3 linked regions of the Homo sapiens genome follow. The protein of the gene in region 1 purifies or fractionates together with the protein of each later gene. This does not show direct contact. Each region holds a gene or a part of one and is shown in the gene's direction. Other genes may lie near its edges.

What was found.
Region 2: the proteins of RAB28 (region 1) and HMMR purify together in Homo sapiens (affinity purification with mass spectrometry, with the first as the bait; one large-scale study listed by BioGRID). This does not show direct contact.
Region 3: the proteins of RAB28 (region 1) and CTPS2 purify together in Homo sapiens (affinity purification with mass spectrometry; one large-scale study listed by BioGRID and IntAct). This does not show direct contact.

The regions. Positions count from the first base shown.
Region 1 is NC_000004.12:13,481,396-13,485,563, reverse strand, and holds the start of RAB28 (ras-related protein Rab-28), read left to right. Parts: upstream 1-1,223; 5' UTR 1,224-1,413; coding exon 1,414-1,488; intron 1,489-4,168.
Region 2 is NC_000005.10:163,480,989-163,484,639, forward strand, and holds part of HMMR (hyaluronan mediated motility receptor), read left to right. Parts: intron 1-1,615; exon of another isoform or gene 1,616-1,653; coding exon 1,654-1,800; exon of another isoform or gene 1,801-2,031; coding exon 2,032-2,184; exon of another isoform or gene 2,185-2,279; coding exon 2,280-2,379; intron 2,380-3,080; coding exon 3,081-3,257; intron 3,258-3,651. UniProt on the Homo sapiens protein: Receptor for hyaluronic acid (HA). Involved in cell motility. When hyaluronan binds to HMMR, the phosphorylation of a number of proteins, including PTK2/FAK1 occurs.
Region 3 is NC_000023.11:16,688,646-16,692,296, reverse strand, and holds part of CTPS2 (CTP synthase 2), read left to right. Parts: intron 1-676; coding exon 677-757; intron 758-2,695; coding exon 2,696-2,847; intron 2,848-3,651. UniProt on the Homo sapiens protein: Catalyzes the ATP-dependent amination of UTP to CTP with either L-glutamine or ammonia as the source of nitrogen. Constitutes the rate-limiting enzyme in the synthesis of cytosine nucleotides.

The DNA.
Region 1 (4,168 bases):
TGCCTCTGGGCTAAGCATTTTGTTAACTTAAGATACTTCATCTGCAAAATGGGGATAATTATACTTCATAATTCCTAATAGTAGTAAAGGTAACAATAAATTTTAAGTGATTAACAATGAAACAACCATAGCAGGACAGCATTATTATTTTTGAATTTACCTCACTAAATTGTAAATTTCATTTATGCCGTTTACCTAACGCTCCTGGACTGAGATTATCCAGGGCAGCAGTTCTTAAATTTTTTGGACTCAGGGCCTCTCTATAATGTTAAAGAATTACTGTGACCTCCAAAGAGCTTATGTTTATGTGGGTTACACCTATCACTACTGCATTGAAATGAAAACTGAGAAATGTTTAAAAACAACAAACGCAAGCTCCCTTAGCTGCCAGTGATGACGTCGTACACAAAGCGTATCCTCCAGGAAACGGTATACTAGTGAGAGAAGGAACGTGAGAAAGACAGACAAGGTGTCCGTATTATTATGAAAATTGTTCTGAGGTCATCGGGATTTCCAGAGGTCCCTAGACCACACTTTATGAGAACTGCTGCCTTAGGGTAAAGATGGGGTGCCAGGAGGTTGGCGATCAGTAGCGTCTGATGAACGAACCATGGGAGCCTGGGGTTGTTCAGATGAGGAAACCAAGAGTTAGGCCGAAATAAGCAGCGCCGGAGCTCCACTGTATTCACGGCCGCTACTGAGGCTTCCCAGCAGCCTCGGCCCTTAGCAGCTGTCCCCTCATCCGCCCCGAGGTACCCTCTTCCCTGGTCCGGTTTTTCAGGGGCCCTCTCTGGCGCTCTCCGCCAGGCTACGGGCGTCCCGGGTGCCCGGAGACAGGCCCCGCCCCGCCGCCGGTCCTCGAACTCCTGGCTGCCAGGCAACCCTGGCGCGTAGCCCGGGCGTCACTGCTCCACCCCGTCAGGCTGAACCATTCCCTTCAGAGACTTTCTCAAGAGGGAAGGAGAAAAGGGAATTTGATGGAACGCCTGAAAGCTGCTCTGCTCCCGTTTTCTCTCCTTAATTTGAACGAACACTTCTTTTCTTCTTCTAGCCAACTGTCTCCTGAAGGGAAACGCAGCGCCTCGCCTCTCCCGCCGGAATGTCCCCCACACCAGTCCAGGGCCGCGAGTGGTTCGGCTCGTCAGGCGGGGCCGCCGGTCGGCGCGGGTTGGCTCTGAGGCGGGGGCGCGCGCCCGACGTGCGCGTAGGGGGCGGGGCCGCGCGCAGAGGGCGGGGAGGTGGGCAAGATGGCGCTTGCCGAGTGATTCTCCTCGAATACCTCCTGCCGGCGCGGAGACACCGGGGCGGGGGTCCTGCCGCAACTACCTCCCTTCCTCCTCTCCCCCGCCCCCGGAGCCTTCATCCTTCCCTTCCCCCCCCACCTCGAGGGGCGGGCCTGGTTCCCGGGACACCATGTCGGACTCTGAGGAGGAGAGCCAGGACCGGCAACTGAAAATCGTCGTGCTGGGGGACGGCGCCTCCGGGAAGGTCAGTCCTCGAGCAGGCCCGCCGTCCCAGGCCTGCAGGAACCCCGGCGGTCCCCGGCCTCCTCCCCGCCGCCCGGCGTCGCCTCGTTACCCCGAGCCCTCGGGCTTCTAGGCCCGGGCCCTTCTGGTTGTGTGGCCTGAGGCCGGACACGAAGTGGGCGCTTGGTGAAGGCCGACGAGAGCTGTCCAGCTCCCCCTTAAAAAAGAGTCACTTCCTAACTCCCCGCCTGGATTGCGAACTCCTGCAAGACTCGGGCCAGCCTTTCAGCTTCCCGCCTCTCAGGACTGGCAGGGATTTGCCAAGGCATCTTAGCTCCTCTTACTTGTAGTCTGGGTCACACTTACTCCTCCCCTCCCACCCCCTTTACCGTTTCTGATGCTTCTACTGCATCGTGAGCTCCCAGGAGCGTAGCTCTGGAATCAGTATTCCCCGGGTGAGAATTGGGGCTCTGCCACTTAGTCGTCGGGTCATTGGAGGGCAAATTGCTAATCAGTTTAAGCTTCATCTGTAAGATGGGTATTGAAAAGGGCCGCCGCAAAGGGAGAAATGTGAAAATACATATTAAATGTGAAAATACACATAAAACCTTTAGAGCACAGTGTCCACTCAGTACACTCTAGTTGCTATTTTAATATCATACCTGTTCATCACCTCTGTTTCCAGCTCAGCACTCGATACAAGCAGTCAGTCAACAAGTGTTTATGGAGCTCCTGTTACGGGTAGGATGCTGAGGGTAGAGCTGCTTGCGTGACAAAAGGGATCCCCTGTTCGAATGAATGAATGCGGGCGTGAGAATATCAGGCAGCGTCAGTCTTATTATCTCCTAGGCAGGGGCTCCTACCCCAAGGCTGTGGAACTCCTGAAATGGAGTAAATACTGCCCGGTACGTGCTCTGGGGAGAGGGTCCATAAGATCTCAGAGGGGTCTATGATCCCTCCACCAGCAAATAGTGAAGAGCCTCTACCCGGATGCCTTCTTTCCCATGCTTCTGTCAAAGGCGCCAACACTTTCTGGGAATATTGCTAAAGTTTATCACCCCTGTACTCCCCTTCCTTATCCCAACCATAGTCTAAAGAAACCCAGGCTTTTATTTCCTGTTTAAGGCTTCACATTTCCCTGTTGCTGGTTGCATTTCGGACCCTGGTTTCTCTGGTGACGACTTCTCTTTGCATCCTCCCTGACAGTTGGCACTGCCCAGATACCTGCTTCTGCCTTTGGTTCTGACATTTGAGTTTCGAGGTCACCTGGGAAAGATGTAAAATTTTATATGCAAAATTTGAAGTATTTTTTTGTTTCTTTCTTGTCTTCTTGGATCCTTTGTTACAGATTTTTAAAGCTGAGGAAAACAATATGCTCTGATTACCTTTAAACGTTGGGGGAAGAAAGGAACTTGGGGTAACTTTTCTTTATAAAGTATATTAATTTTTGTATACTTAGTAAACTTTTCGAATGAATGAATTGCTATAAATAAATCATTGTTTCTAACACCTTTATTCAATAAAAAGTTTGTTAGATTTTTATAGTTTTCTCATCATTTAGATTTTCTTTTGAAGGCCGTCTAAGGTTTTGGCTCTTAAATTTTACTGTATTCAATTCATAACTGATCTTATTTCCCATTTAAAATGATAATGACAACTCATAACAATACATTTGTAAAAAGACACAAAAATTGCTGGTTATCCTATATGCTATCATAATTCTTTAAACTGTTGTTCATTTTTCTAACAGTATTTATTGTACATATATTACTTAGTGAAATTTGTTCATAATTTTGCGTCTGAGTTTTTTATTTAGCCTATCATACATGTTTCCTCTTTGTTGCTAATTTAGTGTGAATAATTATGGTTTTTTATCTCTGTTTAAAATTTTTTCTTGTATAGGACAGGATAATTTTTTCACTTCCATGTTTTTGAATTAGTATTATCATTCTGCTTCAAAGGATAACAGTTAATATTTTTTATGGTGCTCTGACTTAATCTTCATTATCTTGACTAAATAACTTATTTTAAAACTGTAACAGCTTTTTCTAACAGGAACTTCCAGACACAAACATCTGACACCTAACCTTCTTTCATTATTCTTAAATCAAGAATTTTTTTCTCCATACCCTATTCAGTTCTCAAATACTTGGCAGCCACCAACATTCCCATTCTTTTTCCTTTATTGTTCTTTTCTTTGTGAACTCAGCCTCTCTTTCATTCTTACTTGTATCCTGATTTAACTCTTGGCTCTTTTTTCCTGGCATTTGTTTTTCCTGCTCAATCTAACTCTGAGCATTTTTCAACACACTGACAGATGCAATAGAGTATTGAGATGATGACTAACAGTTTCTCCAAGAGAAATTTAGCTCCTCCTTCCAGTATCACGTGTTTCTATTTCTTTCCTTTTCTGATTCATATTTTTTCTTTTATTACATAGTCTCTTAAGAGCTTTTTGAGGCAAAATATTCTTTTTTTTTCTGTCTTTTCAGTGTTTGTAAATGTAGCATGGTTAAAAAATGTTAGTAGAAATTTACCAAGTCAAAAATGTTAGTAGAAATTTTCCAAATCAAAAAATATAAAGATTCAGATAAAAATATTTCTGATATGGGAGCTAGTTGTTCACTTAATACCTGTAATTAAGAAGGGTATTTATACAGTGACTTGAGAAATTATTGAATGTGAAAGATAGCATGCAGTCT
Region 2 (3,651 bases), on another chromosome or scaffold:
TCTTTCTATCTCAAGGTGTAAAGATATTCAACCAGTTTTCTTCTAAAAGTCTTAAAATTTCACTTTCCATTTTTCCACCTAGAACTGATTTCTGTGTGTGTAGCAATATAGGGATCAAATTCATTTTTTGTTTTCCCTATGGACAACCAACTGCCTAGTTTAATTTAATTCATTAAATTGTACCTTGTTTCCCCAGTGATCTGTTCCCACATGTGATACATTATGACAGACACATAGATAAATAATTTATAAGTGTATATGTTTTATTTATAATTTTTATTGTATCAGAACATATAAATCATATAAATATATGTAAATTTTATATATATATATTTATTGCTAATATCAATCCTGTAAAGGAATTTCCCTTCTCGTTAGTTTGAAGAATAGTGCTTCAGGGGGTTTTTATCTATTCTGTGATTTTAGTCACTATCCATATACTCGTGGCATTAAAATTTATTTCATCAAACCAGACCTTTCTTTACAGCTCCATATTCACATATCCAGTTACCCACTTGACATCTTCAAGTAGATATCACACTGTCTTTTAATATTAACCTGTCCAAACCAACTCTTGATCCTTCCATTGCTTTCTACCCCTAGTCTCTCATTGTTTTTATTGTAATCAGTGACATCATCTTCCCAGCTTTTCATTCTGTAAATCTTAGAGTCATCCTTCATCATTCTCTCTTCCTTACCCCCAATATTCAGTCTATCTCTTGAATTTTCCTACTCTGCTTCCAAAAGAGATCTTGTGTCTTTCCATTGCCAGCTCCTTAGTCTAAGCCTCCTTTATCACTCACCTGGGCTGATAAATAATTGTTTTGGAGTTGATCCTTCAATTTTCCATTCTTTTCCCCTGCCCTAATCCATCTTCCTCATAGCTCTAGAGTGAGCTACACATTTAATTAAACACCTTTTTATTTTATTTATTTGTTTATTTTGAGTCGGAGTTTCGCTCTTGTTGCCCAGGCTGGAGTGCAATGGCACTATCTCAGGTCACTGCAACCTCCCCCTCCCAGGTTCAAGTGATTCTCCTGCCTCAGCCTCCCGAGTAGCTGAGATTACAGGTGTCCACCACCACGCTTGGCTAATTTTTTGTGTTTTTAGTAGTGATGGGGTTTCACCATGTTGGTCATGCTGGTCTCGAACTCCTGACCTCAGGTGATCCACCCGTCTCGGCCTCCCAGAGTGCTGGGATTACAGGCATGAGCCACCACGCCCAGCCTACTTGGACACCTTTAATGGTTCCCGTCTGTCCGCCAGGTAAGCCCACTGTGCCCTGCGGTGATGACCCTCATGCCACCAGCTTCTGCTCCAGCCTTTCTTACTCATTAGGCTCTAGTCTCACTTCTTATTTTTTAAATTGTGAGTAATTTTCATGCTTGGTAGTTGATTTCTTTTCCATCTCTGTATGCATACTTCCTGCACCTAGTAGGCACTTGATTTTTTTTTCTTTGAATACACAGCAGATGCCATGTAAACTCATTAGTACTTGCCTCAGAACACTGAATTCTTACCTGTGTTAAATGCATGAATACATTAAAAACTTTTTAGTTTTACTTAGAAGTATATAAAGTGTAAACTAATCAGTTATGATTGTCATACGCAATAGTTAGAAAACTACTTTGACTTTTTTTTCTTTTTAATAAGCTATAAAGCGTTAACAGCCAGTGAGATAGAAGATCTTAAGCTGGAGAACTCATCATTACAGGAAAAAGCGGCCAAGGCTGGGAAAAATGCAGAGGATGTTCAGCATCAGATTTTGGCAACTGAGAGCTCAAATCAAGAATATGTAAGGTATATAGAGCAAATAATGGCCTTAGAACCATTAAGACAATTTAATGTTGAAAGCCAGCTAGTAACTGTCCCTTGGCTTGCTTTTGGCCATCTTATACTGCAAATTAAGAATTTACTCAGTTAAAAAATGACACTTCTTGAAGAGTTCCTTGAGGTTTAAAGAAAAAAAAAGGAAAAATTAATGAAAGTGGCTATAAAATGTTTAGTGACCTCTTCTCTCTCAAACCAAAGGATGCTTCTAGATCTGCAGACCAAGTCAGCACTAAAGGAAACAGAAATTAAAGAAATCACAGTTTCTTTTCTTCAAAAAATAACTGATTTGCAGAACCAACTCAAGCAACAGGAGGAAGACTTTAGAAAACAGCTGGAAGATGAAGAAGGAAGGTAATCTATGATTAGAACCTGAGTGCCTTGTTAACTCAGTTACGATGTGATTTTTTAAATAACTATGTTTTTCTCAATTTAATTCTTCCATGCAGAAAAGCTGAAAAAGAAAATACAACAGCAGAATTAACTGAAGAAATTAACAAGTGGCGTCTCCTCTATGAAGAACTATATAATAAAACAAAACCTTTTCAGGTTTGTCAGTTAGGAGTAAACTTACTTGTGTTTATTTTAGGGACTCACTTTGTTCCCTATTATAGTGAGGACAGTGACTCGGGTTTTCTGCAAGATCATTTTGCTCTGCACTTACAGTGCCAATTTAGCTCACTATTAAAGGTTTATACATTTTATTAAATTATGCATAATTTTTTCCCACATTATTGAAGTATAATTGACAAATTTAATTGACATAATTTTTTCAATGGACCCTTTGTGGTTTAAAAAAAAACTTTGTAATGTGGAACTTAAAAGTTTGGCTCAGAGGGCTTGCCTGGTATGAGCTTTTGATAATTAACCTATTTTAATTTGTGGTATGACTTATTGCAAATACTCATTGTTTCTCAATATACTGATCTTTTAAAAGAAAAAAGAATAAATGCTGATTTTGGAACTTAGAAGTACAGTATTGGTTATAATGTGGTAATCTAACTGATACAGATAAAACTGGCCAGCTGGCTTTTTTACCTTGTTTCTTTTCCTCTGTTTTAATGATCTTTAAAATGAAAAATACAAAGTTTAAAAGATTCTCATAGAGAATCTATGGAGAGCCCTGAGAATATGTGAACATACCTTGTTTTCATTTGTGTTTTTAATTTTCTTTAGTGTTTATGGTTTATATGAAACTAGTAAGATCAAACTGTTTTAAGTCTTAACTTTATTTAAAAAATCTTTTTCAGCTACAACTAGATGCTTTTGAAGTAGAAAAACAGGCATTGTTGAATGAACATGGTGCAGCTCAGGAACAGCTAAATAAAATAAGAGATTCATATGCTAAATTATTGGGTCATCAGAATTTGAAACAAAAAATCAAGCATGTTGTGAAGTTGAAAGATGAAAATAGCCAACTCAAATCGGTTTGTAAAATGACTTTTCATTTTATTAAAGATATTGGAGTGGGGGTTATTCTAACTATAATACTTAAATAAAATGAATATCTTTGGTATCAGAAAAAAATAACTGTTTATAGAGGAAAATTGAGCTGTGATTTAGTGGATTTATTTTAGAGTGTTGACCAGATGGGCATTCAATGTTCTAAAGTTTTCTAGCTACCTTCTTAATATATTGAAAATTACTTGAGTAATTGGATGAATTCATTAAGCTTTACATATCTATTTCCATTTGCAAAACTGCAAACTCCTTGATGTAAAACCATAAAGAGAAGCAGTGTTCAAAAATATTTGGGCATTTAAATTTTTTAACATATGTATTGAGATATAATTGACAACCCATACAATCCACCCATTGAAA
Region 3 (3,651 bases), on another chromosome or scaffold:
TGTGTGTGTGTGTGTTTGTAGAGACAGGGTTTTGCTATGTTACTGAGGCTGGTCTCGAACTCCTGGGTTCAACCAATCCTCCTGCCTTGGCCTCCTAAAGTGCTGGGATTGCACCACGCCCAGTCCGCTGCTCTTATTTTTAGTCTAAACAGTGATGTGTCCTTATAGCAGGTGATCCAGTCATCACCAGTAGTCTCTGTCAGAGGTTGACAAATAACAGCCCACAACTTGCTTGCCTGTTTTTGTAAGTAAAGTTTTATTGGCATGCAGTCACACCCATTCATTTACATATTGTCTGTAGCTGCTTTCACACTGCACCTCAATTGAGGATCAGGACAGTGACTGTGTCACCTGCAAACCTAAAATATTTCCCATCTGGCCCTTTTGAGAAAAAGTTTGTTAACCCCGATCTAGCTCTTTTCTTGTAGTTAATGAAGCAACACTTGTGAGCCTGGACTCTGTTCACCAGAGACGTCTCGATGTTTCGAGTTCTTACTGATACACTTATGCTGAATTTGATTATACTTATATTAGTGCTCAGACCAATTTCTAATAGTCCAGTGGAATGTCCAAAGTGAACAAGTACATACTTGGCCAAGTTTCTTGTAAAAAGAAATGAATGTGGCATCCTGCTGAAAGTGAATCCTGTTTGCTGAAGCATAACTGGCTTTGACAGATTGTCTGCCGAAGTTCAACGCCCATTGAGATGGCCGTGAAGGAGAAGATTTCTATGTTTTGTCACGTGAACCCTGAACAGGTTGGTGCTGCTCTTTAGATTTTATTGTCTGGCAGGCACTTCTGCTGATGCCAGTGTTTTGTACCTCTTCAATGATCATATTACTTTTCACGGCATTTATGCAAGCACTGGGGAACCCTGATCCAACCATGATTCCCTAGCCCTTAAGTGAGATAGGATGCATGTTTCTTTGCATGATCACTCAACTTATGTCACAAAACCAGGGTGGGCTTTCTTTTCTTGAGACAGAGTGTCACTCTGTCACCCAGGCTGGAGTGCAGTGGCATGATCTCAGCTCACCGCAACCTCTGCCTCCTGGGTTCAAGCAATTCTCTTATTTTAGCCTCCTGAGCAGCTGAGATTATAGGCATGCGCCACCACGCCTGGCTAATTTTTTTGTATTTTTAGTAGAGATGGGGTTTTGCCATGTTGGCCAGGCTGGTCTCGAACTCCTGACCTCAGATGATCCGCCCGCCTCAGCCTCCCATAGTGCTGGGATTACAGGCGTGAGCCATCGTGCCCAGTACCAGGGTGGGTGTTTAACTCACAGTCAAACCTCTAGAGAGAGAACCACATGAAGCCTACTTATCATCTCTTTATCTTGTGTTTCCTTCTGGAACACTTACTGCTTTCACTCATTTCTCCTCTCTACCTGTGGCAGCTTAAGTCACCCCAAACACACGAGCACGTTGACATTCGCACTAGCTCTTCTGACTCCATCAGTGGGCTCAGTTGACTTCATTGGTACAGAAACTGTACTGTGATTTGGGCTTAGGTTCTCTGCTCTGTAGGGCTTTCCACCTTGGTATTCTGATAATTCGCTTTTCTTTTTTCTTTCCTTCTCTCATCTCTGTCTCTTGATTCCAATAAGGCTTGGTTATAAGGGATTGGAGTTACCTATAGTTTAAAGAGAGTGATATAAATGGTGCTCAGGAAAAGGGTGAGGTTTGGCAGAAATCTTTTCTTCAGATTATAACTCTGGGTTCTCTGAAGTCTAAAAATGATCAAATTGAATTTTGGCATCTTGGAAAATAGTCTGATGGAGAGCCCCCTGCCTGATGCCTCAGAGTCATTGCCGAAGTCTGAACTACTTTGAAAAATGTGATGGCAGATTGAAGGGACACTTCTGCATCTGTATGTTGATATGTTGTCATGCCATTTTGTTTGCGTCCAATCTTTTTTTTTTTTTGAGACAGAGTTTCACTATTGTCACCCAGGCTGGAATGCAGTGGTGCACTCTTGGCTCAGTGCAACCTCTGCCTCCTGGGTTCAAGCGATTCTCCTGCCTCAGCCTCCTGAGTAGCTGGGATTATAGGTGTGTGTCACCATGCCTGGCTAATTTTTGTATTTTTAGTAGAGATGGGGTTTCACCATGTTGGCCAGGCTGGTCTTGAACTCCTGACCTCAGATGATCCGCCTGCCTCAGCCTCCAAAAGTGCTGGAATTACAGGCGTGAGCCACCACACCTGACCTGTCCAATCGTTTTGTGTACACTTCTTTTTTTTTTTTGAGATACAGTCTTGCTCTGTCACCCAGGCTGGTATGCAATGGTGCGATCTCGACTCACTGCAACCTCCGCCTCCTGGGTTCCAGCGATTCTCCTGCGTCAGCCTCTTGAGTTGCTGGGATTATAGGCACATGTCACCATGCCCAGCTAATTTTTGCATTTTTAATACAGGTGGGGTTTCACCATGTTGGTCAGGCTGGTCTCGAACTCCTGACATCAGGTGATCTGCCCGCCTCGGCCTCCCATAGTGCTGGGATTAGTTTTCTAATTAAATGAAGCTAACCTTGTGCAAATTCTGATGCTAGCTTTGGTTGCTGGGTTTTTGTGTGTGCGTGTGTGTGTGTTATATCAGTGTAAATAAACTGCCAGTCTCTGCTGAATTTTGTTTCATTCTTGTGGTGGCATATTTGAATAGATCCATCTAAGTATGGTGATTTCTCATCGCCACTTAGGTCATATGTATCCATGATGTTTCTTCCACATACCGAGTTCCTGTGCTTTTAGAGGAACAAAGCATTGTGAAATATTTTAAGGAGAGATTGCACCTGCCCATCGGTGATTCTGCAAGTAATTTGCTTTTTAAGTGGAGAAATATGGCTGACAGGTAAGCGAAAGGAATTACTTGTATAATCTTTAATAATTTTTGAGTTTGGGGGTAGAACTAAGACCTACTTGAAAGGGTAAGCGTGTGTATTTGGCATTTTGCGTGTGCACATTTTGGTCTGGATATGTCTAAAGATGGAGCATACTGTTGCGGTGCTTTGCTGTATTATTTGAAGATTTCTGGAGCCTTTGATTTTGTTATACATAAACCAAAGTGAATTAAAGGAATTCGAATTCTGGAAGGAATGTTTTTTTAGCTCTGGAAGGATTCTGATTTATTTGATTTATTTGCTAGTTCATTTTTTAGTTTCTGAATATTTAAAATTTTTTTTTGTTTGTTTTCTTTTTTCTTTTTTGAGAGTCTTGCTCTGTCACCCAGGCGGGAGTGCAGTGGCACGATCTCGGCTCACTGCAACCTCCACCTCCTGGGCTCAAGTCATCCTCCCACTTCAGCCTCCTGAGTAGCTGAGACTAGAGGCACACACCACCACACCCGGCTAATATATATTTTTTTTTTTTTGTAGAGACGGGATTTTTCTATGTTACCCACACTGGTCTTGAACTCCTGGGCTCAAGTGATCTGCCCACCTTGGCCTCCCAAAGTGCTGGGATTATAGGCATGAGCCACCATGCCTGGCCTTAAACAGTTTTAAACTTCACAGGTTTTTTGTTTTGTTTTGTTTTGCTTGTTTTTAAGATTTGGCTAACTTTTCCTAAAGAAAATCATTTTGGATGGGAACTTTTGGCTATGCTAGTTTTGTTTCATCCTGCATTCATTAACTGTTCAGCATAATTATTAAAACTC